5 separate regions of the Homo sapiens genome follow, and all the other regions are linked to region 1. The links come from fine-mapping of genetic effects on gene expression. A gene starts in region 1. Each other region holds a variant in brackets. All regions are shown on one strand. Distances are from middle to middle. Region 1 holds the start of NEK3 (NIMA related kinase 3). Region 2 overlaps ALG11 (ALG11 alpha-1,2-mannosyltransferase). Region 3 overlaps THSD1 (thrombospondin type 1 domain containing 1). Region 4 overlaps NEK3 (NIMA related kinase 3). Region 5 overlaps NEK5 (NIMA related kinase 5).

Evidence for each region. PIP is the estimated chance that this variant, and not a neighbour inherited with it, causes the effect.
Region 2: its variant is fine-mapped to the expression of NEK3 in T cells (TOPMed, PIP above 0.99). The same link has a PIP of 0.9 or more in blood mononuclear cells.
Region 3: its variant is fine-mapped to the expression of NEK3 in whole blood (TOPMed, PIP above 0.99).
Region 4: its variant is fine-mapped to the expression of NEK3 in tibial artery (GTEx, PIP 0.92).
Region 5: its variant is fine-mapped to the expression of NEK3 in whole blood (TOPMed, PIP 0.97).

What each region holds. Positions count from the first base shown.
Region 1 is chr13:52,156,747-52,163,490 of GRCh38, forward strand. It overlaps NEK3 (NIMA related kinase 3), which reads right to left and starts at 2,851. Exons shown (of 16, transcript NM_002498.3): 1 at 2,797-2,851. It overlaps LOC124903176 (a long non-coding RNA gene), which reads left to right. Exons shown (of 2, transcript XR_007063806.1): 2 at 1-600. RefSeq lists silencers at 2,538-2,647, 2,728-2,787, 4,548-4,842.
Region 2 is chr13:52,012,776-52,018,669 of GRCh38, forward strand. All of the region lies in intron 1 of ALG11 (ALG11 alpha-1,2-mannosyltransferase), which reads left to right. Among named protein-coding and RNA genes, the nearest start is that of ALG11, 3.3 kb to the left of the region's middle. The variant C/T (reference allele first, on the strand shown) is at 2,625.
Region 3 is chr13:52,374,470-52,381,213 of GRCh38, forward strand. THSD1 (thrombospondin type 1 domain containing 1) reads right to left here. Exons shown (of 5, transcript NM_018676.4): 5 at 2,698-4,320. The coding sequence ends at 2,942. Among named protein-coding and RNA genes, the nearest start is that of THSD1, 28 kb to the right of the region's middle. RefSeq lists enhancers at 2,959-3,460, 3,461-3,960. The variant C/G (reference allele first, on the strand shown) is at 4,030.
Region 4 is chr13:52,135,202-52,141,945 of GRCh38, forward strand. It overlaps NEK3 (NIMA related kinase 3), which reads right to left. Exons shown (of 16, transcript NM_002498.3): 11 at 5,819-5,868; 12 at 1,599-1,701; 13 at 915-1,058; 14 at 528-662. Among named protein-coding and RNA genes, the nearest start is that of NEK5, 9.5 kb to the left of the region's middle. The variant A/C (reference allele first, on the strand shown) is at 3,750.
Region 5 is chr13:52,095,114-52,101,857 of GRCh38, forward strand. NEK5 (NIMA related kinase 5) reads right to left here. Exons shown (of 24, transcript NM_001365552.1): 12 at 4,630-4,763. Among named protein-coding and RNA genes, the nearest start is that of NEK5, 31 kb to the right of the region's middle. The variant T/TC (reference allele first, on the strand shown) is at 3,319.

The DNA.
Region 1 (6,744 bases):
CTTTACATTTATGCATAAACCTTTTTTCCTGTTAATCTATCTTTCATCAGTTTATTTTGCAGGGCCCAGCTACTGAACCTAAGAGGGCAGAGAAAAAATGTTTTTCCTCCCCTATACTACATACAACAGGCAGACACTGAGCACCAACTCTGAGTCAGATGTTATAATCTGAAAAATCTCTCATAGTCCCTGCCAACGTGGACATCCCATGCAGAGATAACCATAAACCTCAACAAATGTAGGCTATTTAAGCTGAAGCCTGAAGGATGAATGAAACTTGGCTAGACAAAGAGGAGGAAAAGAGTAATCAAGGAAGAGGAAATTGCATATTTAAGAGCTAAAGAAATTACATTCAGTTCAAGAAATTGAAAGAAGAATGTAACAAGCTGCTGAAGCATTTTAACCAAGAAGGCAATATAATCATATTTGCATATTAGAAAAAACATTCACTCAGATTGCAGATTAAATGGACCAGTGGAGGAGGGGCAGGAAGGCCAGCTCAGAGACACAGGCCAGTTAGGAGGCTCCAACAATAGAAAAGGCAGGAAAATAATGAAATGGAATAGAGTGGAGGCAATGGGGTCAGAAAAAATGGGAAGGAAAGATGTAAGAACAGTTGACAGGATTTGTGGTGGCAGATTTATGGGGGGCAAGCAGAGAAGGGGGCAAGGTTGACTCCCAAGTTTCTGGCATGAACCAGATGGTTTCTTGGCACTCCCTGAGAGAGGAAAGGCACAATGGTTGTGTGTGTGGTTTTTTGTTTGTGTGATTTTTCTGGAAGTGGGAGTGTTGCAGGGGTTGGGCAAAACATATTGATAGAAGACAGACATGTGTTTCATTTTGGACATGCCAAACTGGAGGTTCCTGGGAGTCAAGAGAGATGTTAAACACACAGTTGGAGTCCTTGACTTCAGTCTCCCATCTATATTTCCAGGATGAAGCAGCTAGCGGGACTGCTTAGCACATAAGAGAAAATGGATAAAACGTTCCTAACACTTTGCCTGGTACATACAAGGTCCTGAATAACTGGCAGCTATTATGATTATTAAAACCTTAGGGAAGTGATGCATTCTTTTTCATTGCAGGAAAAACACTGTAATGAATTTACTTGATTTTTCAAAAAGCTTACAGTGTTTGTTTTTTATTTTGAGACGGAGTCTCGCTCCTGTTGCCCAGGCTGGAGTGCAATGGTGCGATCTCGGCTCACCGCAACCTCCACCTCCCAGGTTCAAGTGATTCTCCTGCCTCAGCCTCCCGAGTAGCTGGGATTACAGGCATGCGCCACCACGCCCGGCTAATTTTGTATTTTTAGTAGAGACGCGGTTTCTCCATGTTGGTCAGGCTGGGCTCGAACTCCCGACCTCAGATGATCCGCCCGCCTCGGCCTCCCAAAGTGCTGGGATTACAGGCGTGAGCCACCCCGTCCGGCCCTAGTGTTCGTTTTTTAATTACACCACAAAGAATTATAAGGCAGAGAGAGCATGACAGGCAAAGCAAAAATCAAACTAAAACCTCTACTATAGTGACCTGTAAAAATTCCAGTTTGTATTACTGTTTATCACAGAATTACCAGGAAATCCTAGAAATAATTTCTTCATATAACCAAATCAGTCATACACATTGTCTTCGAAACAATGTTTTTCCAAGATCGATGAGGTCTTTTGAGTGTATATAGATGTGAAAGAAACAAGTCCTTTACTACTATTCTAACACCTGGTATTACACGGTTTAACATGGAAGCCAAGTTTCCCCATGATCTTATTCTTCGTTTCTTCGGGGCTTTATTCTATGCAATGGAGAGTAACTGAAAATTAAGAGCAACCAGACTTCTTAGCTGAAAACCACATTTGATATTTTCTGCCCACATTTGCCTGTTACTCAATATTACACCCATATGATCATTACAAGACCTGAATACACTCTGGACATGGCAAAAGTATATCGGCCCCTTCGCATGCCTGCAACAATACTTTTAAAAACCTAATAAAGTGATTTGCAAATACCCAGAAGTGGGATCACCAGTGAGATACGGGCTAAGTTCAGAAAGGTCCCTGAAACCACCTTTACAGATGTATAAGTAATGCGAGAAATCTAACATGACTGACTCCATCTTGCTTCTAACCTCACGGGCTAAGTTTTCACCGTGTTGTCGTTTTCTTATTCTAGCACAGAGGCTAGGATAACTGGGAGAGGGATTTCGTGTAAACTTCAAGACAAGGGAAACTGACCCCACCCCTTCCTGGGAACCAACGAAGCCGCCCCGAGTTTCAGAAGCTCTTGTGATTTCATCCCCAGCCGGTCAACTGTTTCAGTTCCCCAGCCCCCCGAAGCCAAAATGCCCTTTAAAACCCTCGCCCCCGAATTCTCGGGGAGACAGGTCTGAGACCCTGTTCTGGTTTGGCCAGCCCTGCGCTTATTAACTTCTTTTTTTGCTGCAACAGCGGTTCTCACTGGTTCTTTCCGGGCAGCGAGCGAGAAGAATCCGTTGAGCCGGGGCCGGCGCCCGCGGGGCAACTGCACCGCGGGGGAGCCCAGTCGCCCCGCTCACCCGTGAGGGCCCTTTCTCCTGGAAAAGCCGCTCCGCCCTGCTGACCCCCACGGCACCGCGCGCCCAGACCCCAAGGCGGCGAGGGACTTGCGGGTTTGCGGCGAGTGGTCCAGACCGCGGGGCGGAAGTGAGGGGCGCGGCCGCGCGTCCGGGGCGCGTCTACCCCTCGCTCCCACTCGGCTCCGCGCCGCGACCACGCGCCGCCCTCCTCGTTCTAGAGGCAGCCCGCCAGGGCGGGGACCACTCACCCGCTTCCCCGGCGACCCTAGTCCACTCCTTGGCCTGGCAACCGGCGGCTTCCGCGGGGCGGGCCCGGCGGGTCGTCTCTCGGGTTGCGGGTGAAGGAAGCCGCCTGGGTCTGGCGGGAGGCACTGTTCTTGGAGTAGCCGGGCCTACGAAGAGCACGTTTTAAAGCTGTTGTTCCACGTTGCGGTGGAACAGTGCTGTTAACATTGAGGGAAATTGTCCCCGACTAACTGAGTTCTGTCTGCAGGTTAAGTGAAAGCCTATGTAGATAAATTTCACGGGCACAGCACTCAGTGCTAGCTAGAACTTACTAGCTATGTGACCTTGGGCAATTGTGGAAGGCGGGATAATGCTTCCGCCTCAGGATGTCCACATCCTACTCCCTGGAACCTGTGCGTTTGTTCTCTTGCTTGGCAGAGGGGGTTAAGATTGCAGATGGAATTAAGGTTGCTTATCAGCGGACTTTAAAATAAGGTGACGATCTTGGAGTGTGTGCTTGGGTAATTACAAAGTAATTACAAGGGTTCTCTAAAGTGGAAGGGGCCCAAAAAGAAGGTCAGTATGAGAAAGCTATTTGAAGGTGGAGGAAGGGGCAACAGCCAAGGAATGCAGCTGGCCTCAAGAAGCTGGAAGAGGAGCAGGCACAGTGTCTCATGTTTGCAATCCCAGTGCTTTGGAAGGCAGAGGCAGGAGAGGAACACTTTAGCCCAGGAGTTCGAGATCAGCCTGGGCAACATAGTGAGACACTCGTCTCTACGAAAAATTAACTAGACATAGCGACGGGCACTGTGGTCCCAGCTGCTCGGGGGATTGGGGCAGGAGGATCACTAGAGCTGGAGAGGGCTCATGATCCCACCACTGCAGTCCAGCTTTGGTGACAGAGCAAGAACCTGTCTCCAAAAAAAAAAAAAAATATATATATATATATATATATATATATAAAGGAGGAGGTGGGAGGTGGAAAAGGAGGAGAAGCTAGAAAAGGAGGGAAAAACAAAAAACAAAAACCAAATTGTTCCCCAGAGCTTCCAGAAGTAACAGTCCAGCTGACCCCTTGATTTTTTTGTTTTTTGAAACAGGGTCTTGCTATGTTGCCAAGACTGGTTTTGAGCTCCCGGGCTCAAGCGATCCGCCCACCTCAGCCTCCTGAGTGGCTGGGACTACAGGAAAACCACCATGCACACTGACGCCTTGATTTTAACCCAGTGAGCTGTATTTCTGAACTTCAGAACTGTAAGGTAATAAATTCGTGTCGTTTTAGCCACTTAGGTTGTCACAGTTTGTTACAGAAGCCTTAGGAAACTAATACAGCAGAGTAACTAAATCCCTCTGTATAAAAGTATAGAACCTACCTCATAGGATTACTGTGAACAACATCTGGTTACCCTTTACTTGTAAGCGCTGAACGTGTTCATTATAACGTGTCAACCAGAGTCAGAGAGACCGAAATCCAAGTAAAGAAGTTTATTGGCAGTCTGAGAATTGCAGTTCAAGGAACACAGATTCCAGAAGCATTTGAATTGTGTCCTGACCAGCTATTTTTGGGTAGGGTTTTTAAAGGAAGTAAGAAGTCAGTTCTCACTAGTTCATCCATAACCTTCGTAACCCACTATTTTGATTGAAGATAAAGCGTTATCATGACAGTTCATTGGTTTCTAGGCAAAAGTCCTTGATTCAGGGGTTTGAGAAAAGTTCAGTCCTCAGCATGAAGTCCTTTTCATAATGGCAGCAATTTTGTCTGCAACATCAGCAAGTACATTCTGCAGTCAGGCAGTTGTAAAATGGCATTCAGGAACAAAATGGCTTTGCTCTGGCCAGCTCCAATTGCCTTCCTTCCACAATGTCAAAGTTAATGTACAACTATTCTGTAGTGTGGTGATAAGAGAAGGGAAATGCTACAAATCAACATTTACAACATCTGCACTGCTTTCTTTGTACTCTATACAAAGACTAGTTTCAATTAAAAACAAAGAAGGCCAGGCACGATGGCTCAGGCCTGTAATCCCAGCACTTTGGGAGGCCGAGGTAGGCAGATCACCTGAGGTCAGGAGTTCGTGACCAGCCTGGCCTACATGGTGAAACCCTGTCTCTACTAAAAATACAAAAATTAGCTGGGCATGGTGGGTGGCGCCTGTAACCCCAACTACTCGGGAGGCTGAGGCATAAGAATCATTTGAACCTGGGAGGCGGAGGTTGCAGTGAACCAAGATCGTGCCACTGCACTCCAGCCTGGGTGATAGAGCGAAACTCTGTCTAAAAAAAAAAAAAAAAAAATACTGCCCATGCCTGTACTCAGAATGCTGCTCTTGAGAACTGAGCAAAAGACAGATTTCTATCAGATTAAATTTGTGACAGCATCAGGGGAGAAGATGACAAAGGTGCTTAATGCTTTTCTTTCCCACCCAATGATGGCAGTCATGAAAGGGATTCTTTCCCTTGTTCCATCGGTGTATTAGTTTGCCAGGGCTGCTGTAACAGAGTCCCACAAGCTAAATGAATGGTTTAATCAAATTTATTATCTCATACTTCTGGAGGCTAGAGGTCCAAAATAAAGGTGTTGACAGTGTTGGTTTCTTCTGAGGGCTGGAACGAAAAGATCTGTTCCAGGCTTCTGTACTTGACTTGTAGATGGCCTTCTTCTCCCCCACATTGCCTTTCCTTTATGTGTACTGTCTCTGAGTCTAAATTTCCCCTTGTATAAGGACACCAGTCATATCAGATTGAGGGACCATCCTACCCCAGTGTGGCCTCATCTTAACTAATTATATCCTTAACAACCCTATTTCCAAATAAGATCACATTCTGAGGTACTGCACATTAGGACTCCAGCGTATATTTTGTGGGGGATGCAATTCAACCTGTAAGTCAGTAAGAATAGACTGGTGAGGGTAGGGAGAGGGGATGGTGAGAGAAGGTCTGGCCCCCTTTTTATGCAGCTGTTGCCAAGCTGTGGATACCCAGCCAGGAGAGCTTCTGGATATATCCAGAAATAATAAAACGCCACTTCTCCTGAGATGACTGGGAGTTTTCACTCTGTATTAACTGCTTTGTAGTCTACAGTTATATAGACTTTCTTATACTTTTTAACTTCGGTTTGGTTTAAGAGCCACAAGATGACTCACCGAATATATTTCCAGGCATTAAAATAGATGATCTCTGACCCTCACCAGGATTGTTATGTTTGGTTTTTGTTTTGTCAAAGGGGAAAAAAAAAGTTGAGTAGAGGAAGACCTAGAACAAAAAGCAATTGTTCCTTGCTTTTTATCTCCCCAGCTTCAGTCCCACTTCCAAAGGGCAACCACTTTGACCTTTGTGGTTTTAAATTCTCCTGATGATCTTCAACTGTATGAATAGGATTAAGCTGCTATTTTGTGACACTATTGACTCTTGCAAGGACTGATAAAAAGTCAGCTTAATTCACCCCCCTAAGGTGCACATGGTAGTTAACACTATGATTTAGTCCTATTGTTCACTTTAGTAACTTTAATATCCTTAAACTGTTGTTTTTAGTTCTATTAAATACAGACAGCGCCTCTTGGTTCTCCATTTCATGATAGGAAGAACTCTTACTTCCCTTGAACTCCCCACCTCTGCTTCTACCTCCAAATTTCTTATTTTTTAGAAATGAGGCCTCCCTCTGTTGCCCAGGCTGGAGTACCTCTGGTGCAATCATAGCTCATTGCAGCCTCAAACCTCTGTACCTCCAAACTTTTCAAAGCTGTACTCTCTTAGATTTCCACAACTGATAACATTTATATTCCCTTCTGTAACTAAGTCTTCTTTTTTTTTTTTTTGAGATGGAGTCTCGCTCTGTCGCCAGGCTGGAGTGCAGTGGCGCCATCTCAGCTCACTGCAACCTCTGCCTTCGGGGTGCAAGTGATTCTCCTGCCTCAGCCTCCCACGTAGCTGGGACTGCAGGCGTGCACCACCACGCCCAGATAATTTTTGTA
Region 2 (5,894 bases), 140 kb before region 1:
TTCCTTATTTTTCTTTACGATTGAGCCACGAGACATTTTCCAATCTATCATGTCTCTTTTCGGTAAAGAAGAAACCGGATCTTCCTTCTCATCTTAGTTTCTACTCTTAAACTCACCAAAACTGCCATTGTTAACACGTCACTTAAATATAAAGCTTATGTTGAATCCTCTGCTTTTTGATAATCTGTTACTTTAATTTTTATGATGTAAGAAGTTACATAAAATATTATTTTATTTGTATTACGTGTATATGCTGTTTCTTCTAGAAAAATTAGAAAATAGATAAGTAAAAGGAAAAAACCCCAGGAATGCTACCATCCGGAGATAGCCACTGTTAACATTTTGGTGAAAAAACTCCCAGGCTTTTTTCCACCTTTGTTGTTGTAGTACTACTGTATTTTAAATGCCTTGCCCTCCACTAATAAAACAGAAGGCCTAGTATATTCTACCTACCTAGTTTTTTTACCACCTACATATTTTTGTTCAGGCTGAAAATTTATAATTAACACCATAGCTTCCTGAATAGCAGTATATACCTAATTCTTTCAAAAGTTCAGGCATTTCTTCTTCGTTTTTGTCCACTCTACTTCAAATTCTGTAATCATTACTTTAAACATTTTGAATGAGAAAGTCTGTTATCAGAGCCTTTTGGTTCTTCCCTGTCATACGTAATATTCCTCAGTGCTTTACATTATAATGTTTAAATAAACTCACTAACCAGACTTAAAGGACAGGTTTAACTTTAGTTATTATGCAGCTTTTAAGTTAAATGTTTAATAGTTCAGTTTGAAAAGCTTGTCACATGAATTTTCCCACCTAAATTATTTGAAGGAATTGCCAGAAAAACCTTTACATTATATGGGTCAGCTGCATTTTAAATAAGCTTTTGAAAGAGTGTCCTGAGAAAGCAAACTGTCCTCTGTAGTGTTGCTTTTATGAATTCATATATTCCAAATGTTAAATAAATGATAAATCTTACCACTTTTGTCAGACTCTGTTCATCCTTTAAGGCAGTGGTTCTCAAATTGTGCTCCATGGACCATGCAGGTCCCAAGGCCCTTCAATGGATCCTCAACAAATCTGTTTTTATAATAACATTAATGTAATATTTGCCTATTTTACTATGTTGATAAGTGCAAAAGTGATAGCGGATAAAACTAAGTGATAGTGGATTTTAATTAACAGTGTGAAAAGGTCATTGATAGGGTTTCAGAGTCTGTATTGCAACTGACATTAAGAAACTGCATAACTTGTCAAATGTGGTCTAGCATCAGAGAAGAATATCTGTAACTAGCTGAAAAGTTAAATATATTTTAAACATAAGATCAATATATATTAAAATATACTCCCTTTTCCTACTACATGTCTAAGTTAGCCTGAATTTTCTTCATATACTTCAACAAAAACAACATATCACTAGATTGAATGCAGAAACAGAAAGGAGGAGCCACTATCTGGTTTCACGTTAAGCCAGACATTAAAAAGATTTGCAAAAAGTGTAAATCATTGGCACCCTTCTTGCTAAATTTCTTTTTTTGGTTTGGAAAAGATAGTTTTTTAATAAAAATATGTTAATGTGTTATGAAAGAATTTTTATTTTCAAATGAATTCATAAAAAGTTTAAAGTTCTTTAGTTTTCATTTCTAATATGCTAAATATTGGTAGATATAAGCAGTGTAAACCACTGGTTCTCAACCAGGGGTGATTTTTGCCCTTCGCAAGACATTTGGCATTTGGCAATATCTGGAGGGCTTTTTTTTTTTAATTTTTTTTTTAGAGATAAGAGTCTTGCTCTGTTGCCCAGGCTGGAGTGCAGTGGCATGATCATAGCTTACTACAGCCTTGAACTCCTGGGCTCAAGCAATCCTCCCACCTCAGCCTCCCAAAATGTTGGGATTACAGGCATGAGCCACCATGCCCAACTGATAATTTTGATTGGGAGGGTGCTACTGGCATCTAAGTGGGTCAAGACCAAAGATGCTACTAAATATAATACATAGGACAACCTCCGCAACAAATAATTATTTGGTCCAAAATGTCAGTAGTGTCAAGGATGAGAAACTCTGATGTAAACAAAAGCTCTATTGTATCCTCAGTAAAATTTTTAAGAGTATAAAGGTGTATAAAGAATATAAAGACCAAATTATTTTAGACCAATTATTTCAGCTTTGAAATAAAGTGCTCATGTGGGATTTCAAATAGAGTCAAATACCTCTTCAAGTACACAGTAGGAAATCCCACATGAGATTTGTTCACAATAGGAACAAATGAGGATTTGTTCACAATAGGAAATCCCACATGAGAACTTTATGTCAAAACTAAATATCAATAAAATATTTACTTCTGGCCAGGTGCAGCAGCTCATGCCTGTAATCTCAATGCTTTGGAAGGCCAAGGCAGGAGGATTACTTGAGGCCAAGAGTTTGAGACCAGCCTGGGCAACATAGCAAAACCCTATTTCTACAAAAAACATTTTTTTAATTAGCTGGGTGTGGTGGCATGCACCTGTAGTTCCAGCTTCTCAGGAGTCTGAGGCAGGAGGATCGCTTGAGCCAAGGAGTTTGGGGCTGCAGTGATTGCTATGATTGCACCACTGCACTTCAGCCTGGGTGACAGAGTGAGAC[C/T]CTGTATCTAAAAAAAGCAAAATTTACTTTTCTGATGAATTTGTATGTTTTCATGTGGGCAGTGAAAACTATGTGATATGGTTTGGCCGTGACCCCACCCAAACCTCAAGTTGAATTTTATCTCCCAGAATGCCCACATGTTGTGGGAGGGATCCAGGGGGAGGTAATTGAATCATGGGGGCCAATCTTTCCCATGCTATTCTCGTGATAGTGAGTAAGTTCACGAGATCTGATGGGGTTTATCAGGGGTTTCTGCTTTTGCTTCTTTCTGATTTTTCTCTTGCTGCCACCATGTAAGAAGTGCCTTATGCCTCCCGCCATGATTCTGAGGCCTCATAGCCATGTGGAACTGTAAATCCAATTAAACCTATTTTTGTTCCCAGTTTCGAGTATGTCTTTATCAGCAGCGTGAAAATGAACTTGGTACCATAAATTAGTACCAGTAGAGTGGGGTGCTGCTGAAGAGATACCCAAAAATGTGGAAGCGACTTTGGAACTGGGCAACAGGCAGAGGCTGGAACAGTTTGGAGGGCTCAGAAGAAGCCAGGAAAATGTGGGAAAGTTTGGAACATCCTAGAGACTTGTTGAATGGCTTTGAACAAAATGCGGATAGTGATATGGACAACGAAATCCAGGCTGAGGTGGTCTCAGATGGAGATGAAGAACTTGTTGGGAACTGGAGAAAGGTGACTCCTCTTATGTTTTAGCAAAGGTACTAGAGGCATTTTGCCCCTGCCCTAGAGATTTGTGGAACTTTGAACTTGAAAGAGATGATTTAGGGTATCTGGTGTAAGAAATTTCTAAGCAGCAAAGAATTCAAGAAGTGACTTGGGTGCTCTTAAAAGCATTCCATTTTAAAAGCGGAACAGAGCATAAAAGTTCAGAAAATTTGCAGCCTGACAATGCAGTAGAAAAGAAAGACCCATTTTTTTAGGAGAAATTCAAGCTGGCTGCAGAAATTTTCAAAAGTAGCAAGGAGCCTAATGTTAATCCTGAAGACCATGGGGGAAAATGTCTCCAGGCAATGTCGGAGACCTTCATGGCAGCCTCTCTCATGGCAGGCCTGGAGGCCCAGGAGGAAAAAGTGGTTTTGTGGGCCAGGTGCAGGGGCCCTGTGCTGTGTGCAGCCTAGGGACTTGGTACCCTGTGTCCCAGCTGCTCCAGCCGTGGCTGAAAGGGGCCAATGCAGAGCTAGTGCTGTGGCTTCAGAGGGTGAAAGCCCCAAGCCATGGTAGCTTCACATGGTGTTGAGCCTGCGGGTGCACAGAAGTCAAGAATGGAAATTTGGGAACCTCTACCTAGATTGCAGAAGATGTATAGAAACGCCTGGATGCCCAGGCAAAAGTTTGCCACCGGGGCAGGGCCCTCATGGAGAACCTCTGCCAGGGCAGTGCAGAAGGGAAATGTGGGGTTGGAGCCCCCACACAGAGTCCCTACTGGGGCACTGCCTAGTGGAGCTGCGAGAAGAGGGCCACCGTCCTCCATACCCCAGAGTGGTAGATCCACTGACAGCTTGCACCGTGTGCCTGGAAAAACCTCAGACACTCAACGCCGGCCCATGAAAGCAGCCAGGAGGGAGGCTGTACCCTGCAAATCTACAGGGGCAGAGCTGCTCAAGACCATGGGAACCCACCTCTTGCTTAAGCATGACCTGGATGTGAGACCTGGAGTCAAAGGAGGTCATTTTGGAGCTTTAAAAATTTGACTGCCCCACTGGATTTTGGACTTGCATGGGCCCTGTAACCCCCTTGTTTTGGCCAATTTCTCCCATTTGGAACAGCTGTACTTACCCAATACCTGTACTCCCATTGTATCTGGGAAGTAACTAGCTTACTTTTGATTTTACAGGCTCATAGGCAGAAGGGACTTGCCTTGTCTCGGATGAGACTTTGGACTGTGGACATATGGGTTAATGCTGAAATGAGTTAAGACTTTGGGGGACTGTTGGGAAGGCATAATTGGTTTTGAAATGTGATGACGTGAGATTTGGAGGGGCCAGGGCAGAATGATATGGTTTGGCCATGTCCCCACCCAAATCTCAGTTTGAATTGTGTCTCCCAGAATTCCCATGTGTTGTGGAAGGGACCCAGGGGAAGGTAATTGAATCATGGGGGCCGGTCTTTCCCATGCTATTCTCATAATAATGAATAAGTCTCATGAGATCTGATGGGTTTATCAGGGGTTTCCGCTTTTGCTGCTTCCTCGTTTTTCTCTTGCCCACTGCCCTGTAAGAAGTGCCTTACACCTCCTGCCGTGATTCTGAGGTCTCCCCAGCCATATGGAACTGTAAGTCCAATTAAATCTCTTTTTGTTCCCCGTTTTGGGTACGTCTTTATCAGCAGTGTGAAAACGAAGTAATACACTGTGTAACTACACAAAACATCCCCTATTTGCCTAGGCTACTGAGCAGCCCAGAGCCCAGTCTGCTATTCACTACTATGTATGTAAATACAGCCTGCATACCTGTGTCCATCATCAACCACCATCCCAACATACACACCATCTTTATTCTATTTTCACTGGTCCTGACTTTTTATTATTTAACTTTTGGCATTTTATTGTTTTTAAATCTTATAAGCCCTCCTCAAATCCTTTATAAAGGATAGGCAGAGTATGAAAAATATTAAGTTAGATTCCAACTGTATTGGCAACCCTAAAAGAAAAGCACCTTGGCATTTTATTTTAACACATTTTAAGCAACATCTGAAGACGTAATAAACTTTTGCATCCGTCATATATTCATTGGATGCCTTCTCTGTGCCAGGCATCGTACTTGGCATTGGGGACATGGTATGAGCAAGCCTGGGCCCTTGCTTTTGCAGAGCTTCAATCGACCTGACAGCAATGGAGAACCTTTTAACAGTCACTTTGTGAATGAGTTTACTAATGAGTATTAAGTAGAACATTAGTGGGTTTTTGGCAGCTCATTCAGAGGTACATAAGGGAAGGTAGTAGTATTAGATCATGTAAATAGAGCAAATACAGAACTGGAAATAGAAGTGGAGAAATCTAAGTTCCATTCCTTTATCCCAGAAATTGTTCTACTTGAGGTGAAGTGATGGAATGAAAAAGATTTACTATCTTACCAGACTTTAGTGGAATATTGATCGTTCAAAAGACATATTTTTTTTGGCATCTGACCCTCAAAATGACAGTATATAACACATTCTTAATCATGTCTTGTTTAGATTAATAGTTAAATTTGTTTTAATCCCATAACATATATACTAAGTCAGGAGAAAGGGGGTTCAATGTTGATTTTTACTGCTG
Region 3 (6,744 bases), 220 kb after region 1:
TTCTGTTCATAGTATTTTCCTTTACTTTCCACCTTTCCCATATCTGTTTTGGTCTGACACTGTAGGGTACATCACTGTGAAATCAAAAACAAGCAAGCATGTACCCTTTGTCCTCAAAGGTTGGCATGCAGGCCTGTGAACTTGGAAAGACAACAAAGCTTTCTAGCATGATAAACAAAGAAAATGAAGATTAAAAAATCTGGTTTCCTCTTCCTGGCATTAGCAAATACCAGCTGTCCGAGAACTCTGAATAATCTACTCCTCTTATTCCTAAAAGGTAATTAATGTTAAAACATTGCCGAAAGGAGGTATATTTTGATTTTCAATTAAAATGACACAAATGAAGTGGCAATGCAACAAATATGAGAGAAAAATAGAAAACTGCAGTATTTGCATTTGTGATATTTTTCCCATCTAATTTCACTCTCTCCAATGGTCCCTGAAACATCACCTGCAGGCTGACATCCTGATAAACTCTAAAAGGAAGACAGAAAACAAAATCTAAAAGGCAGGGTGGGTGTGGCAGTTAGAGAGGTCACCACGAAAAAGAAGAAAAATGCAGCTACTCTAGGGATACAGATAAGTCATTAGGGTCAAGGGTTGAAAGGAGTACATGAGATTGCAGACTGCCCATGTGGTAACTAAAACTAATGACAGACTTCTAATAAAGGAACAAAACCTTTAGATTCTTTTGTTTGGCCTTTACTGCCAAAAAAAGCAAGTTGCAAAACCAGTCCTAACATTTCATTAAGCAATGGAAAGCTTCTTTCCATTGGGAAAAGCTAATAGAAGTGTCTCTTCATACCCTCTTAAAAAGGGCCAGGTTTCTCCTGATGTTTCTGCTATTAGAAAAGACTTGTAGACTGAGCATGGTGGCTCATGCTTGTAACCCCAGCACTTTGGGAAGCCAAGGCAGGCAAATCACTTGAGGTCAGGAGTTCAAGACCAGCCTGGACAACATGGCGAAACCCTGTCTCTACTAAAAATACAAAAATCAGTCGGATGTGGTGGCAGATGCCTGTAATTCCAGCTACTCAGGAGGCTGAGGCACGAGAATTGCTTGAACCCAGAAGGCGGAGGTTGCAGTGAGCCAAGACTGTGCCACTGCACTCCAGCCTGAGTGACAGAGGGAGACTCTGTCTCAAAAAAAAAAAAAAAAAAGACTTGTAAAGTTTGTGATGGTAGAGTGGAAAGAGCATGATATTTACAATAATGTTATCAGTGCATGTCCTAGCCAATCCTGTTATTCTCCCTGTATCTCAAATGTCTTGTCTGTGGCCAGGTGCAATGGCTCATGCTTGTAATCTCAGCACTTTGGGAGGCTGATGCAGGTGGATCACGAGGTCAGGAGTTCGAGACCAGCCTGGCCAACACAGTGAAACCCCGTCTCTACTAAAAATGCAAAAATTAGCTGGGCCTGGTGGCAGGTGCATGTAATCCCAGCTACTCAGGAGGCTGAGGCAGGAGAATCACTTGAACTCGGGAGGCAGAGGTTGTAGTGAGCCAAGATCATGCCACCGCACTCCCACCTGGGTGACAGAGCTAGACTACGTCTCAAAAAAAAAAAAAAAAAAAAAGCTTTGTCTGTAAAGTGTAGAAGATTGCAAACACAAACAAAAGGGATTCTAAATGTCTAAAAAGGCTTATTTCCTTCTTTAATTCATTCTTCTAACTAAAAAAGCTTGGCTGGGCGTGGTGGCTTACACCTGTAATCCCAGCACTTTGGGAGGCCGAGGCAGGCAGACCACGAGGTCAGGAGTTCCAGACCAGCTTGGCCAACATGGTGAAACCCTGTCTCTACTAAAAATACAAAAATTAGCCAGGCCTGGTGGTGAGCACCTGTAGTCCCAGCTTCTCAGGAGGCTGAGGCAGAAGAATCGCTGGAACCCAGGAGGTGGAGGTTGCAGTGCGCTGAGATTGCGATCGCGCCACTGCACTCCAGCCTGGGCAACACAGCAAGACTCCGTCTCAAAAAAAAAAAAAAAGCTTAAACTGTAAAAAATTGTAAACTGTAAAAACTATAAAAAATTGTAAACTGTTCTACTTACTTTACATATACCTAATTAATGCATTTTCTGAACAACATGATAAAGTTATGTTTAAGAAAAACATACATGCACCAGTTCTCACGCTGAGGTATCTGCTGCCAGTTTGGTCCAGGAACATGTAATCAGCATCCTGGTCCCAGGTAGTGGCATGGTCAGTACCTACTGCCCATTTCCTCAGAAGACAATACTGTCCTTTCCAAAATGTTTACTATTTATTTGCTCAGAACAGATAGGTCTTCATTTGACTCACTACCTGAACCACCAGCTTCTTACATTATCTCTTTAAAGCAGAATTAATTCATATAATTTTGTCAAGTCACCTGGACTCAACTCTAATCTGAAAGTTCTTGAATATCTGTGGTATCACCATTTCTAAGTAGTTCAGCAGTCTAATGGTCATAACTAACTTAATCAGCCAAATATGAAATCTGTTTGATGCTGCCATTGTAGGAGTCAAATTCTTAATGTATTTATAACTTAATAAATTGCAATTCAGAATTATGACACTAAGTTAACTTCGCTCCATCCCTTTTTAGTTGAGGTTCCAGATTTCTGCTTCAGGTTGGAAACTGCCAATGCAATGTTCAGAGCATGTTCTACTCAAAAGTCACATCTTATCTTTCATAGCCACATGACAGACCAAGCCCCATTTGCTCATTTACATTTTATTATCATTGTTATTACTAATAAATCAATAGAAATTGAATAACAAAGGAAAAAGCTCAAGATAAATAATTTCTTCCTTGTGAATTCAAACACATGCATACACACACATCCTCCTCTGTGTGTTACTTCCTCCTCACATTCTGTCCTACGGTACAAATAGTTACACAAAAGTCTACAAAACGCGAGTAGCAGACCCCAGCTGTGTAAAGCTCAGGCTGATTCTCAGTCTAGATCACCAGCTTCTCCACGCTAAGTGTACTTGTGGTTTCATCCTCTTCATTTGACCCAAAATATCCTGGGAGGTCCAGCATCCTCTGCTCAGCCTCAGTGAGGCCAAACGACGTATTGTCATAGAAGGCAAACTCAGGGTGAGTGGGGAAGCTTTGACACTTGTCTTTTCTACACTGAGAAGGGCTCAGAGAACTGACCCTCTGGTAGTTATCTTTGGGGGATATGGGAGAAGACTGCTTCCTTGAGACACTCTTGTGACTGGGGGACGGTCCCCGACGAGCTCTGTGGGGCTCTGTTCTCTCAATTCCGGCCACTAATCCTGCCTGGTGATCCCCAAGGTCTGGTTTCCTCAAGGGCTGCCCCAAAGTGTAGGATTTAGGGAGAGGGTTTAATGGACCACGGGTTCCACTTGCCTCTTGGAAATGCTCCAGTTTTTCAGGAAACAGGTGGGCACCTCGACTCTGAGGCCTAAATCTGTCCTCTGCCTGCTCGCAGGTCCGCGTCCTAGAGCTGTAGGCAGGGGCCTGCCGTGGAGTCAGAGTGGACATGCTCCTCTCTCGGAACGGCCGGGCCTGCCTGGCTTCATGGAAACTCGCTGTCCTCCTGAAATGGGCGTTCCTGGCATGGCTCCTTTCGGACGGGCCCCCTCTGCTGCCCACGTGCCTTGCCTGTGACTTGCGGATCAGAGTCTGGCTGGGGCTTATGGCACAACTGGCCTGAGTCACATTTAGATCCAGCCTGGAGGGAGGCCTTTCCCCGGCACTGACCGCGGGCTGCTCCGGAAATGGGGATTTGATCCGGAACTTGTTTGCTGCAGCTTCTTCCGGGCTTTCCAAATCTAAGGGAGCGCTGGGGGCCGCATCAATGGCAGTGTCTGTCAGGGGACTCTGAGACACGTGATACACTTTGGTAGTTTCCGTCAGACCTTTCTTTTTCATCTCCTTTAACTGCTGCTGGGCAAGGCGGTAGCTGAACAGAGGTGGGATTATCTTCTGGGCGTTGGACTGGAAGCTCTCGCTGCCAGAGGCATCATCCTCGGGAGGTACCGGCCCGCTCCGCCTGTAGGTCAGAGGGATGCCTGTGT[C/G]CCCTGGACTCCCCGTGGGCCCGTCTCCCCCATCCGAGAAGCTCCCGCGCTGCTCGCTCAGCTCGCAGATATTCTCCTCGTCCGAGTTCTTCCGGAAGCTGGGGGAGTGGATGGAGTTGTGTCGAGCAGGTGTGCTGCACTTGGCTGGCCGGCCGAACCTCCTCCACAGCGTGATGAGCACAGTGGCAATGATGATGAACAAGCACAAGGATATACCAGTGACAGTCACGATGTTGTTGGACTTCACTGGACCCTGGGGCTGAAGAGGAGATGGGCTGGATGGCTGGAAAGCTGCAAAAAAAAACAAAACAAAACAAACAAACAAAAAACACAGAGGAACAGATGTATTTTTACTTTTTCTTTTCTTTTTTTTTTTTTTTTTGAGATGGAGTCTTGCTCTGTTGCCCAGGCTGGAGTGCAATGGTGTGATCTCGGCTCATTGCAACCTCCGCCTCCCAGGCTCAAACAATTCTCCTGCCTCAGCCTCCCAAGTAGCTGGGATTACAGGCATGCACCACCACGCCTGGCTAATTTTTTTGTATTTTTAGTAGAGCTGGGGTTTCATCATATTGGGCAGGCTGGTCTTGAACTCCTGACTTGTGATCCACCCGCCTTGGCCTCCCAAAGTGCTGGGATTACAGGTGTTAGCCACTGTGCCCAGCCCAAATATGTATTTTCTAGTATTGTTTGCTCTGCACGGTTTTAAGGTCTCTGAGTCACTCACTCTAATTATCTAGCAGTTAAGGAATGATGGAAAATAAACAAGGACTGGGATTTCTGGTCTTACATATGGATTTCTGCTGGCAGCTGAAGCCAAACAAGATCACCAAAGGGGAAACACTGCAAAAACAGAGACCCACAGAAGCGAGGTGACCTGGTAAGCCATAATCAAGGTGACTCCCATGCTCACCAGCTCCTGCTGGAATTGGCCTCCAAGTTTCCACACAGAAGTAGCATGTAGAAATTTTCTTTTTCTTTTTTTTTTTGTTTTGAGACGGAGTCTTGCTCTGTCGCCCAGGATGGAGCACAGTGGCACGATCTCGGCTCACTGCAACAACTTCCGCCTCCACGGTTCAAGTGATTCTCCCGCCTCAGCCTCCTGAGTAGCTGGAACTATAGGCGCATGCCACCACCCCTGGCTCATTTTTTAATTTTTAGTAAAAACAGGGTTTCACCATGTTGGCCAGGATGGTCTTGAACTCCAGACCTCATGATCTGCCCACCTCGGCCTCCCAAAGTGCTGGGATTACAGGTGTGAGCCACTGCGCCCAGCCAGAAATTTTCAAGATAAAAGTCAGTGTTCACTTACGATAATGTAAACATGGTACCTATTGTTAAATGTACCTCTGAGAGGCACATCGGAAGTATAAAATGTGAAATGCAAAATGATTTAGGTAGGCCAAATTTAGGTTCCTACATATGTACATCTTAAGGGAAATTAACTGACGAAAGTAAGACTTGGCAATACATAATACAACTCATTTCCCCCTTCTATTATCCAGAAATTGTCTTTCCTAAGCGTTAAAGCCTCTGCATTCTCTCTCTTCTATTTTCAGCCATCCACTCCCCTTCCTACCTTCCATTGTGAGGGGTACTTTTCTTCTTTTTCCCTCCTCAAACTGGTTTGTCCCACGGTCATCAAAATGTTTCATCAAAATGCAGGCACCACCTGGAGCCTCCACCTGTACTGCCACCAAAACACCTGGAAACCTGAGACCAACTAATGCCACCTGACCCTCCCCTCTCTTTCCCCTTTGGTCACCAGTCCTATGGCTTTTTTTCCCATGTTTGTATCACCACCAGCTCTGTGCTTCATCTTCTCCACCCGTCCTCCCACTGCCCACTCTTTGTACTGTCCCCTAGGGGACAGCTGATTACAAATTCCCCAACATCCCTAACTGCTCCACAGAACACCACCTTCACCTCCTTGTCCCAACTGAAGCCAGGCTACCCTGCAGGGCATGGTTTCCCCCAATCCTCTCAGTGGAAGCTGTCACACATAGTTTCTTTTCCTTTTTTTTTTTTTTCTTTTCCACCTCCTGGGTTCACGCCATTCTCCTGCCTCAGCCTTCCGAGTAGCTGGGACTACAGGCACCCACCACCACGCCTCACTAAATTTTTTTGTATTTTTAGTAGAGATGGGGTTTCACCATGTTAGCCAGGATGGCCTCGATCTCCTGACCTCGTGATCTGCCTAACTTGGCCTCCCAAAGTGCTGGGATTACACATACTTTCTTTATAAGTAAACAGGGCAAGAAGCAGAGTGCGTTCCCCAAGCTCATTCCTATTGCTCTTTCCAACCTGTGCTCTTTCACCTCCATAAAAAACTTCCATTCCTTTGATGCCCATGCCATCCTTGCCAACCACCGTTCTACTCCTCCCTCAACACCATCATCTCCCAACCTCCTGCTAGCCATCAGTCACTCTAGCACCTGGGTCCCAGCCTCCCTCACTATGCCAGAGCTAGGACCATCCAGGTGGCTTCAGGTCCATCCAACATATAGTACCTTCCCACTCTCTGCTCCTCTTCTAAAATCTTAAACCGCTCAACCCACTCTCTAGCTGTGTTCACTACTCTCACTCACTCACTATTACTACATTAAGACTTCTGATTCTCCAGCCCTCCATTTTCTCCCATCTGCCAGACACTTCCCAACCTCACTTCTCCCCCTAACCAATTTACAACCATGATCCATTACTGAAACCATTTTCCTT
Region 4 (6,744 bases), 22 kb before region 1:
TAAAAAAATTTAAAAATCAAATCCTAATTGTTCATCCTTTTTGAGCTCTATTCAATGTAACAGAGTTCAGGTATACAACAAAAGAAATCTTGGAGTTGTTGCTAAAGCAATGGCATATTTGCATGATAAAAATGGGCTCCTCTTCAAAGAAAGTAGTAGCAGGATTATGAAAATAAGCAAACAAATGAGCAAACAGAAGTAATGTAGCTCCATGAAAAATTTTAATTGTAGCTTAAGACTGGCTAGAAAAGATTAAAAAACACCTAAAAATACAGTGCTATGAATTACTTTATAACTTTGAAATCAAAGCGTTTCTGGGAGGAGGGAAACCCTTTGAATTGAGTTTTGGAAGATGAGAACATTTCTGTGGATGGAAACTGGTGATGGCTGTACAACAATGTGACGTACTTAGTGCTACTGAACTGTACACCTTAAAATGGTTCAAATGTAAATTTTATGTTATATATATTTGCCACAATTTTCAAAAAGTCAAAGGGTTTCCAAGGTCACATACAGACATGAATTACCTGGTCTATATATTGTGTATGTTTGAAAAGCCAAGCTGAGATCAGCATTCTTAAGGATGTTCAACAAAGTGTCAGGGGTCTCTTTGAGCCACTGCTTACGAGTAGTATTTTTGCTGTACTTTATTACAGAACCACCTAGTTGCAAAAAGACAAAAATTAGTGCTGAATAAAAAAAGATTTTTCAGCATGTACTTTCCAGATCATATTTTCAAGCGAAGTTAGTTATATTTGACTGTTAACTAAAATCTGCTTCATTCACCTGTATGAGCAATGCTCTGATGTGTGACGCCAAATACCCTTCACAGACATTAAAAGGCTCTAAGTGCACTAAGTAACTATTAGAAAAAGTTCTCTAATAAAATAATAGTATTCAATCTGACTACTAACCTCTATCGTCCTCTGCTGTTAAACTGGAGGTGAGTATGGATGCATTTTCCAAAGCTGTAAGAGCTGTATTGGGTACATTTTTCTCCCACTGTCGTCTATGAAGATTTGGTGAACTGGCTTTCCTCAGATGGACTGACTTATTACCTGATTTTAAAGTGTGAAAAAGGAATGCCAAGCATGTGAAATTATGTATCCATCTCTGTCCACACATAGACTCTAACAAATATGGAAGTGTTTCTTTTCTCTTTCATATTCAGATCTATGTTTGAAAGATCAATGTTCTTTCTAATCTAAGTAGCAAAGGAAATTTAAAAAAAAATCCAAAATGAAAAATTAAAACGAACCATTACAGTGACTGAGTTAAAAAAATAATATGTATATAGTTACATATTCTATATTATACAAGAATGAAGCCCTGGGAGGACTTACATACACACAGTATGCTATGCTTTTTATGGTGGATAGCACAATAAATACTGCTCTTTCTAATGACTCTTACTGATAAATGCTATTCTCTCTTTTGTTGTAGGTAAATAAAATATTCCTAAAACATTAAATAAGTTACTAGATAAGCAAACAAATATCAGCTTGTACTCTTGTTTATGATATCTGAGACCTAGTAACATAAAAATTGGTATTCCCCAACTCCTCACCTAAGAAATGATTAGAATTTGAATAACTTACCTTTTTCTTCTCTGTTTACTCTTCTCAATGCACTTTCAACTAAATTTTCATTAATGCTTTCCAAATCAGTATGGCTACCCTTTCTATCTTGTTCTTCCTCTTGCTTTAAAAGAGATTAACAATACAGATTAAATAATGCTTGAATTGCCACAAAAAGGTAAACAAATATGCAAAGTCAGCCATTTTAATTTCAAATAAAAATTAATGGATTAAAATACATGAATAATCATAGAACCCCAAGGACATGTATATTAATAGCCATATATATCTATATGTATTTAATAACATATATATGTACATTAACCAAAAACCTACATACATGTATATATTAATAGACATACACATTAATAGCCATTAATATCAATTATTATAAATATGAAGAGGATATATTAAAATGACAGCTATTTGGTAAGTCTTTACTAAGGAAAAGACTAATGAAAAATTTCAATATGGTTTGCCGTACTGGGCTTTACAAACTATAATATCAAAATGAGATATTTTATAAAGTTGCCATATAGAATCAAAATGTTCCCACTTAATTCAGTATCTTTCCAAATTATCTAAGCCCTTGATTTATTTCGTGAAATATAGTAATACACTATCTGGTTTACTAAATCTGCATATACTTTGAGAAGAAGTACATATTGAATGCCTAAACAGTCCCAGGCAAACAAATTCTCAAATATTTATTGAATGAATAAAGAAAGAGTAGGCTTGGGTGGCATGGCGGGTTTTCTTATTTCTAAGCAGTGGTTCTGAAACTTCTCTTCCCACACATGTAGGGAACATAAAAATCTGTCACTTAACAGTGGTAGCTCACTTACAGCAGAGATTTCAAAGCCTCCTACACTCAAGAATGACATCAGAATCTTGGAGGAGTAGTGGTGAGGGGCAGCTGTGAAAAGCCCCCCAGGGGATTCCAGTCTTTCCTTCCCATTGAGGATCACTGCTTTCTGTGTCTGCAGCAGCCTCCCACATTCCTCTGGGCGCTATTCAACTCTGCCTTCATTGCCATCGTCCTTTGCTGGCCTGCACACAAGTTTTCCTACCTCAAGTCCTCCATTCCCTGACTGACTTTTTGGCCTTTTCTCCATTTTGTTTACATGTTGCACCCTTTTCATTTTGCGAACACATATTGCTGTGTTCACTACAGGTGGTATCAAACTATAGCGTGTGGGCACAGATCATCTGCAAAGGGCACAAGGAAACATTTTAGGGGATGGAAATTCTTTTCTTTTTGAGACAGAGTCTTGCTGTGTTGCCCAGGCTGGAGTGCAGAGGTGCGATCATAGCTCACTGCCCTCCTCAACTTCCCAGGCTCAGGCGATCCTCCCGCCTCAGCTTCCCAGTAGCTGGGACTACAGGCATGTGCCACCATGCCCACCTAAAATTTTTAATTTTTTGTAGAGATGGGGTCTCATTGTGTTGCCCAGGCTTGACGCAAACTCCTGGCCTCAATCAATGCTCCTGCCTCTGCCTCCCAGAGTGTTGGTATTACAGGCGTAAGCCACTCTGCCCCACCTGGAAGTTCTATATGATGACTGTGGCAGGGGTTATATGGATATTTAAATACCATCACCAAAATTTATCAAATTGTGCATAAAAATGGGTAAATTTTGTGGCATGTAAATTATACCTCAAAAACTGGAAAAAACAGACATTACAATGAAAAGAAAAAAAGTATAGAGGTCTGTATTCCATTTGTAGCAACATAATGGTGGGGTGTTGTTATTTATTTAGAACCTATGGTTCATTCAAAAAATTTAAAAGTTTAATTACTAGTACATTCCATGAAGAGAGCAATTTGTTGTCATACAACATCTTTTCCTTTTTGAATTGAAAGGTTAGGCCAGGTGAAGTGGCTCACACCTATAAATCCCAGCACTTTAGGAGGCCAAGGTGGGAGGATCACTTAAGCCCAAGAGTTCAACACCAGCCTGGGCAACATAGTGAGACCTCATCTCTATAAAAAAGTTAAAAAATTATCCGGGCATGGTGGCATGCACCTGTAGTTCCAGCTACTCAAGAGGCTGAGGTGGGAAGATCCCTTGAGCCCAGGAGGTTGAGTCTGCAGTGAGTGGTGTTTACGCCACTGCACTCCAGCCTAGACAACAGAGAGAGAGAGAGAGAGAAGGAGAGAAGGAAAGAAAG[A/C]AAGGTTGACTGAAATACTGAAAAAAACATCAATAGTACACAATTTGCTAAGGGGGGTGTGACAACACTGAAACATGGATCGGCTGTTAATATCCACAGCTTTAGGGAAGCTTCAGTGTAAAAGAATGTCACAGTTGCCCAGGGCTAGATGAACAGGACCCCGAATGCCAGCCTGAAAATTGATTCTTGGGATAACAAGGAGGTGCTACAAAGCATTGAACAGAAAAATGTTAAGATCTAAATAGTAATCTAAATGTTACTCAGCTTCAGCACAGCAATAAAAAGGAATGAAGTTTTGACACACAGAAGAACTTAAAAACATTATGTAAGTGAAAGAGGCCAGACATAAAAGGACAAATATTGTATGATTCCACTTACATGAAATACTTAGAATAGGCAATTTCACACAAAGATTTGAGCAGCTACCAGGGGCTACCAGATTTGAGATTAGAGGCTGCCAGGGGCTGCAGTGGTGGAAGAGGGAGTTATTGCTTAACAGGTACAGAGTTTCTGTTTGGGATGATAAAAAGTTTTGGAAATAGACAGTAGTGATGGTTGCACAGTATTATGAATGTAATTAACACCACTCAATTGTACACTCAGAATTGGCTAAAATGGCATATTTTATGTTATGTATATTCTACCACCATAAAAAAACAAAAAGCAGGCCAGGTGTGGTGGCTCATGCCTGTAATCCTAGCACTTTGGGAGGCCAAGACAGGCAGATCACATGAGGTCAGGAGTTCAAGACCAGCCTGGCCAACATAGCAAAACCCCATCTCTACAAAAAGACAAAAAATTAGCTGGGCACGGTGGCTCGTGCCTGTGGTCCCAGCTAACCAGGAGGCTGAGGCATGAGAATTGCTTGAACCCGGGAGGCAGAGGTTGCAGTGAGCCGTGATCACGCCACTGCACTCCAGCCTGGGTGGCAGAGGGAGATTCTGTTTCAAAATAAACGAACCAAAAAGCAGCCAGGCCCAATGGCTCACACCTATAATCCCAGCACTTTAAGAGGCCGAGGCGGGAGGATCACTTGAACACAGGGGTTTGAGACCAGCCCAGGTAACATAGCAAAATCCCATCTCTTTAAAAAAATGCCAAAAAAAAAAAAAAAAAAAGCTAGGCATGGTGGCACATGCCTGTAGTCCCAGATACTTGGGAGGCTGAGGTGGGAGGATCACTTGAGCCCAGGTGTTCGAAGATGCAGTGAGCCATGTTCACGTCATTGCACTCCAGCTTGGATGCCAAAGTGAGACCCTATCTCAAAAAAAAAAAAAAAAAAAAGCCAGGATAACACAAGATTTTCATGACTGAAAGCAAGACAAAATTCTTCCACATCTGTATTGAAACCACTATCATCAATAATCAAAAATGGAGGCCGGGCACGGTGGCTCACGCCTGTAATCCCAGCACTTTGGGAGGCTGAGATGGGTGCATCACAAGGTGAGGAGATCGAGACCATCCTGGCTAAAACAGTGAAACCCTGTCTCTACTAAAAATACAAAAAATTAGCTGGGCATGGTAGCGGGTGCCTGCAGTCCCAGCTACTCAGGAGACTGAGGCAGAAGAATGGCATGAATCCAGGAGGCGGGGCTTGCAGTGAGCCAAGATGGTGCCACTGCACTCCAGCCTGGGTGACAGAGCAAGACTCCATCTCAAATAATAATAATAATAAATGGAAAAATAAACAATAAATGGCGACCTAAAGTGGCTCAGCTGACAGTGCAGATGAACAGCTACCAGTTATTTCCCATGCCAAAAAATGAAGGAAGAAGTACTTAACTAGAGGGACCAGGTCACAGTCTTCCAAATATCTTATGGCACTTAAGGGTAACCCGGTATCCAGGAGGTAGATATTTCATAAACGTATTTTTTTTCTTTTGAGATGAAGTCTCGCTCTTGTCGCCCAGGCTGGAGTGCAATGGCGCAATCTAGGCTCACTGCAACCTCCGCCTCCAGGTTCACTTGATTCTCCTGCCTCAACCTCCCGAGTAGCTGGGATTACAGGCTTGCACCACCACGCCCGGCCACCGCGCCCGGCCTCATAAAAGTAATTTTAAAGCACTTACCACTGTGCTTGCTTCATTTCCCAAAGCTATCCTGATTCTGCTGGGGTTTGCTTTTAAAAGAGAGAGAGAAGGTAGAAAGATAAAACACATAAAGGATCATCCTATTAAGTTCCTAATATGATTTTCATACAGCTGGAGAAGTGAGTGAGGTTATTAAAGTCAAAGAGCCAAAGCTCTCTGATATCCTGAATGGGAATAACAAGCTTTAATCACCTAATAATACATCTCAGTTATTGAAAGAGGCTATTTCCACTGTTTCATTCCTAAAGTTAAAATCCAAAAGTTAAAAGACATCTCTATTCACTTATGCCAACCCATTTAAGCACTAAGAGGTAACATACTCTGCATACTTAAGGTTATTTTCCCCTTTGGTGCATGCTAGCTAGTGGAGTCCGTGCTTTTCCTGTTAGCTATCACAGCTGGTGGAATAAGTATCCCTAAAAAGAAGTGAGCTGTTTATTAACTCAGAAGAGACCAGCAGGAGGAGTCAGGAGAGAACCCTGGCAATTGATCCCTTTGGTAGGAATGGCTATGCCTCATAGTGGTTCATGTCCCTTATTCATTCAACGTTTTAAAAAATTGCTATTGAACATGGATGATGATGCACTGAGAATACAAGAGTGAGCAAATCAGATGCAATCCCTGCCCTGTTCCATTTCATTATTCTGGTCTGTCTACAGATTAAACTGGAGATGCCATCAGACATATGGTCCCAGTCTGGTGGCATTTCTCTAACTACTTATTCCTCTTTTTAGAAACTGTAACACTATACTTTTTTGGCCGGGTACGGTGGCTCATCCCTGTAATCCCAGCACTTTGAGAGGCCAAGGCTGGTGGATCACCTGAGGTCAGGAGTTTGAGACCAGCCTGCTCAACATGGTGAAACCCTGTCTCTACTAAAAAAAAAAAAAAAAAAAATTAGCCAG
Region 5 (6,744 bases), 62 kb before region 1:
TTTGTAGAGGTGGGGTCTCAATGTGTTGACCAGGCTGGTCTCGAACTCCTGGGCTGAAATGATCCTCCTGCCTCAGCCTCCCAAAGTGTTGGATTATAGGCGTGAGCCACTGCACCTGCCTATTTTTAAAATCTTTTAAAACAAGAAGTAGTTTTCTTTGTTTTACAATTTCACCTATATACAACCTAGAAGAAAATGCTACTAATGACTTGTTGAAAAGTGGTAAAAAATATAGAAAAGTATTGAAAGGCAATAAACATTTTCTTTAAAATGTTCTCTAACATCCCAACAGTAATAGGAATATCAGAGGTAGTTCCTGTGGAAATCAATTTTACCTTTTCAAGGAACTGGAAAAATGTCAGCGTGTTCAACAGTTCGTAATTTAATTCATCCTCAAATCTTTTAGATGTGTTTTCCCTTCTACAGGTCTGATAAAGAGTCCTCTGAATCACAACATACTTTTCTTATTTCTTTAATAAAATTAAGCCCTTAGGCTGGGCACAGTGGCTCACGCCTATAATCCCAGCACTTTGGGAGGCTGAGGCGGGCATATCACTAGAGCCCAGGAATTCAAGAACAGCCTGGGCAACACAGTGAGACCCTGACTCTACAAAAAGTAAAAACTAGCTGGGCATCATGGTGCATACCGGTAGTATAGCTATTCAGGAGGCTGAGACGGTAGGATCACTTGAGCCTGGGAGGTCGAGTGATATGCTTTGGATTTGTGTCTCAGCCTGGGAGGTCGAGTGATATGCTTTGGATTTGTGTCTCTGCCCAATCTCATGTTGCACTGTAATCCCCAATGTTGGGAGACGAGGCCTGGTAAATGGATCGTTGGGGCAGATTCCCCCCTTGCTGTTCTTGTGATAGTGAGTGAGTTTTCATGAGATCTGGTTGTTCAAAAGTTTGTAGCGGCTACCCCTTCACTCTTTTCCTCCTGCATGTAAGATGAGCCTGCCTCCCCTTCTGCTATGATTATAAATTTCCTGAGGCCTCCCCAGCCATACTTCCTGTACAGCCTGCAGAACTGTGAGCCAATTAAATGTATTTTCTTTATAAATTACCCAGTCTCAGGTGTTCTTTATAGCAGTATGAGAATGGACTAACACAGTACATTGATACCAGGAGTGGGGTATTGTATAAAGATACCTGAAAATGTGAAAGTGACTTTGGAACTGGGTAATGGGCGGAGGTTGGAAGAGCGTGGAGGGCTCAGAAGAAGATAGGAAGATGATGGAAAGTTTGGAATGCCCTAGAGACTTCTTAAAATCATAGTGACCAAAATGCTGATAGTGATATGGTCAATAAAGTCCAGGCTAAGGAGGTCTCAGATGGAGATGAGGAACTTATTGAGAAATGCAGCAAAGGACACTTTTGTTATGAATTAGCAAAGAGGTTGGAGGCATTGTGCCACTACCCTAGGGATCTGTGGAACTTTGAACTTGAGAGTGATGATTTAGGGCGTCTGACAGAAAAAATTTCTAAGCAACAAAGTATTCAAGATGTGGCCTGGCTGCTCTAGCACCCTATGGTCATATTTGTGAGCAAATAAATGATGTAAAACCAGAGCTTATACTTAAAAGAGAAGCAGAGTGTAAAAGTTAGGAAAGTTTGCAGCCTAGAAAGAAAAACCCATTTTCTGGGGAGCAATTCAAACCAGCTGCAGAAATTTTCAAAAATAAAGAGGAGTCAAATGTTGTTAGCCAAGATAATGGGGGAAATGCCTTGAAGGCATTTCAGAGACCTTTGAGGCAGCCCCTCTCATCACAGGCCCAGAGGCCTAGGAGGGAAGAATGGCTTTGAGGACCAAGCCCAGGGCCCCACTGCTCTGTGCAGCCTCAGGACATGGTGTCCTGTATTGTGGCTGCTCCAGCTCCAGCCATGGTTAAAACGGCCCAAGGTACAGCTCAGGCCATTGCTTCAGAGGGTGCAAGCCGTAAATCTTGGTGGCTTCCACATGGTGTTAAGTCTGCAGATGCACAGAGTGCAAGAGTTGAGGCGTGGGAGCCTCCACCAAGATCTCAGAAGATGTATGGAAAAGCCTAGTCGTCCAGGCAGAAGCCTGTTTCAGGGGGACCCTCTACTAGGGCAGTGCAGAGGGGAAATGTGGCATTGGAGCCTCCACACAGAGTCCCCACTGGGGCACTGCTTAGTGGAGCTGTGAGAAGAGGGCCACCATTCTCCTGACTCCAAAAACGGTAGATTGAACGACAGCTTGCACCACGCACCTGGAAAAGCCGCAGACACTCAACAGCAGCCTGTGAGAGCAGCCGCAGGGGCTGTAGCCTGCAAAGCCTCAGGAGCAGAGCTGCCCAAGGCCTTGAGAGCCCACTCCTCACACCAGTATGCCCTGGATGTGAGACATGGGGTCAAAGGAATTTGGAGCTTTAAGATTTAATGACTGCCCTGCTAGGTTTTGAATTTGCATGGGGTCTATAAACCCTTTGTTTTGGCTGATTTCTCCCTTTTGAAATGGGTGTATTTACCCAATGCCTGTACCCTCATTGTATTTTGGAAGTAACTAACTTGTTTTTTATTTTACAGCCTCACAGGTGGAAGGGACTTGACTTGTCTCAGAGAGACCTTGAATTGTGGACTTTTGAGTTAATGCTGAAATGAGTTAAGCCTTGGGGGACTGTTGAGAAGGGATAATTGTATTTTGCAATGTGAGAAGGATATGGGAATTGGGAGGGGCCAAAGGTGGAATGATATGGTTTGGATTTGTGTCCCTGCCCAAATTTCATGTTGAATTGTAATCCCTGATGTTGGAGGAGGGGCCTGGTGGAAGGTGATTAGATTATGGGGACAGATTTCCCTCTTACTGTTCTTGTGATAGTAAGTTCTCCAGAGATCTGGTTGTTTACAAGTGTGTAGCACCTCCCCCTTTGCTCTCTTTCTCCTGCTCTGGCCATTTAAGATGAGCCTGCTTCCCCTTCTGCCATGATTATAAGTTTCCTGCGGCCTCCCCAGCAATGCATCCTGTACAGCCTGCAGAACTGTAAGCCAATTAAACCTCTTGTCTTTATCAACTACCCAGTCTCAAGCAGTTCTTTATAGTAGTATGAGAACAGACTAATACATCCAGGCTGCAGTGAGCTGAGACATGCCACTGCCCTCTAGCCTGGGTGACACAGCAGGACCCTCTTTCAAATAAATAAATAAATAAATAAATAAATAAATAAATAAATAAAGCCCTTTATCAAATGAAGGGCAATAACTTAAACAATCGGTTTTTAAAAAAATGTTTATATACCAACACATTTTCTAAAATGTCTATATATCAAGTAAACACTTAGTAAATACACTTCCAAATGGTTC[T/TC]TAATTTAACCATGAGCCTTCTTTAAAAATACAATTCTTTAATTAAAAGACAGTAGCCATTTTATCATTTACATACCAGAAGCATTTCACTAGTATGACCTAAAAGATTCAACACTCTGCTGAAGTGAATTCAAATAATTAAACACAAAGAATCACTAGGGAAATATCAATTATTATATCATAAAAACTTCTCAATCCTATACATAATATGTTAGAATTAAGAATATTAAATGCAGAGTGTTTTCTGTTGCTATGTTACTCACTTTTCCTATACAGAAAAATCTTATTTATTAGAAATTAGAAGAATTTCAGTTATAAAAAGAAAATTAAGCCTAAAGTATACTTATAAGAGCATACAGCATTGTTTCATAAAATATAAAAACTAGAAGTTGTCCAACAAAATACCATTATAATGCTCAGTACAGAATACTTCATTTTAAGTACAAAATTTGTGGACTCCAAACAATAAGCTTGTACCTCATGAACATGTGCAGATAGGTCTGTCAGAATATACCATAGCTTAATGGGTTAAAAAAACAAAAGAATGAATAAGACCTACTATTTGATAGCACAATAGACTGCCTATGGTCAATAGTAACTTAATTGTACATTTTGAAATAAGTTACAGAGTATAACTGGGTTGTTTGTAACTCAAAGGATAAATACTTGAGGGGACAAACACCCTATTCTCCATGATGTGCTTATTTCACATTGCTTGCCTGTATCAAAACATCTCATATACCCCATAAATATATACACTTACTATGTACCCACAAAAATTTTTTTTTTAATTAAAAAATTAAAGAAAAAGAATATAACAGCTGGGTGCAGTGGCTTATGCTTGTAATACCAGCACTTTGGGAGGCCGAGGCAGGCTGATCGCAAGGTCAGGAGTTCGAGACCAGTCTGACCAACATGGTGAAACCCTGTCTCTACTAAAAGTATAAAAATTAGCCGGGGCCGGGCGCCATGGCTCACACCTGTAATCCCAGCACTTTGGGAGGCCCAGGCAGGTGGATCACGAGGTCAAGAGATGGAGACCATTCTGGCCAATATGGTGAAACCCCATCTCTACCAAAAATACAAAAATTAGCTGGGCATAGTGGCACACGTCTGTAGTCCCAGCTACTCAGGAGGCTGGGGCAGAAGAATTGCTTGAACCCGGGAGGTGGAGTTTGCGGTGAGCCGAGATCGCGCCACTGCACTCCAGCCTGGCGACAGAGCGAGACTCCGTCTCAAAACAAACAAACAAACAAACAAAAAGCATATACCATAGCTAAAAAACACAAAGGAGGGTTTAGAATGACTTACAGATCTGGCCTTCTGGGCTCCAGCTGGTGGTCTCCATTCATTTCTATGCAATATAGCATTCCTTTTAATTGGCACAGATATCCTTGATCTTGGTGGGCACTTTCCCTGGAATCTCACTTTTTGTATTTTACACTCTTAATTAACCAAAATAAAACAGCTTCAATTTTTTAAAAATTGTACACCATTAATACTGATACTTGTAAGAGTATAAACATAAGCTACATTTCATAACACAGTAAGTTTACTTTTTAGCCAGAGATATTTTACACACAGTGAGAGTACTGATGAAAAATTAATATGCAATTTCTTTAAATGAAAAAAACCATTTTTTCAGAGTCCCTTTGCATATTTCTAGTAATATATAACATCACTTTTTTTCAGAAAAATAGAAATTAATATTAACATTTACAGAAACAATATGTATGGGGTAATAATAAAAGTTATTAAATTTGGTCATTAGAGCTTGGGTTATCAGGCCACTCCATTCATGCCACATTGTTTGGAATTTATGAGTAGATCTTCTCTCTTTTTTTTTTGTTGAGACAGTCTCACTCTGTCACCCGGGCTACGGTGCAGTGGCAGGGTCTGAGCTCACTGCAACCTTCACCTCCCGAGTTCATGCGATTCTTGTGCCTCAGCCACCCAAGGAGCTGGGATTACAGGCATGGGCCACCAGGTCCAGCTAATTTTTGTATTTTTAGTAAAGACATGGTTTGGCCATGTTGGCCAGACTGGCATCAAACTCCTGGCCTCCGGTGACCTGCCCTCCTTGGCCTCCCAAAGTGCCAGGACTGAGGTATGAGTAGATCTTCTAATGCTTGTCTTTATCTCCATCAAAATTTGTTCTTGGGCTGAGTAAGGTGGCTCGCACCTGTAATCCCAGCAATTTGGGAGGCCAAGGTAGGAGGATTGTTTGAGCTCAGGAGTTCGAGACCAGCCTGGGCAACACAGTGAGACCCCATCTCAATAAAAAAAAAATTGTTCTTGTTCTCCTATCTTACCTAGATTAGAAATATGGACAATACACAGTCCCATACTCTGTACTTGTCTATTTTCTAAACATTCTCAATCTAGACTGGTATACAACAATGTTAGTCAAATTAAATGGCAAAGAGGCTCATTCACTTTCTCTTTAACTTTCCTTGATTTTAGAATCTCTGTCTCAATGGATAACATTTCCCTGTCATGGATTCCTTTGAGAGGCTTTCTGCTCCTCCTGATATTGTAAGTCCAGGCATTCAGTTACAGCTAAATTCTGGGGCTTTGACTTTCACAGCATCAAATGAATTAGTAATTTTCTCTTTCTTAACGTACCCCTCCCTCTGACACACAGCTTAGCTGATTCTTGACACCAGGACTAAAATAGTTTTCTCCGGCCTGGCGCGGTGGCTCACGCCTGTAATCCCAGCACTTTGGGAGGCAGAGGCGGGCGGATCACGAGGTCCGGAGATCGAGACCATCCTAGCTAACACAGTGAAACCTCGTCTCTACTAAAAAAATACAAAAAATTAGCCGGGAGTGGTGATGGGCGGCTGTAGTCCCAGCTACTCGGGAGGCTGAGGCAGGAGAATGGCATGAACCCGGGAGGTGGAGTTTGCAGTGAGCAGAGATCGCGCCATTGCACTCCAGCCTGGGCGACAGAGCGAGACTCCGTCTCGGAAAAAAAAAAAAGTTTTCTGTATTTATTACTACCATAAAATATCTCCTGCCTTCTTTGGGAACCACAAAGTAACAGTTCTTACTGTTATCAATTAGGCCCCAAGATCCTAACTTCAGCTCCAATGGTCCTTTGCAACAGAATTCTTAATTGCCAGTCTATCCTCTTTTAGAAAAATAAGTTTCATCTCATCATCCATGTCTATCTGCAACCTTCTCCCACTCTGTCCCTTCACTACACAAAAGTTAAGTTTGGGCTCAACCTCTTCAAGCATCTCTATTAGCATGTCCTCTGCTTCATGGAGGTTTCCTGACTAACGAGAAGGAACCCTGCAGGTCATGCATGAGCTAGATATACAACTTTCAGGCACACTCACTAGTTGCCATTTGACAAGATGATTTTTCTCCTGCTTATACTGCTTGTATTTTTTAAAATGTCCACTTTCAATATGTTTGGTG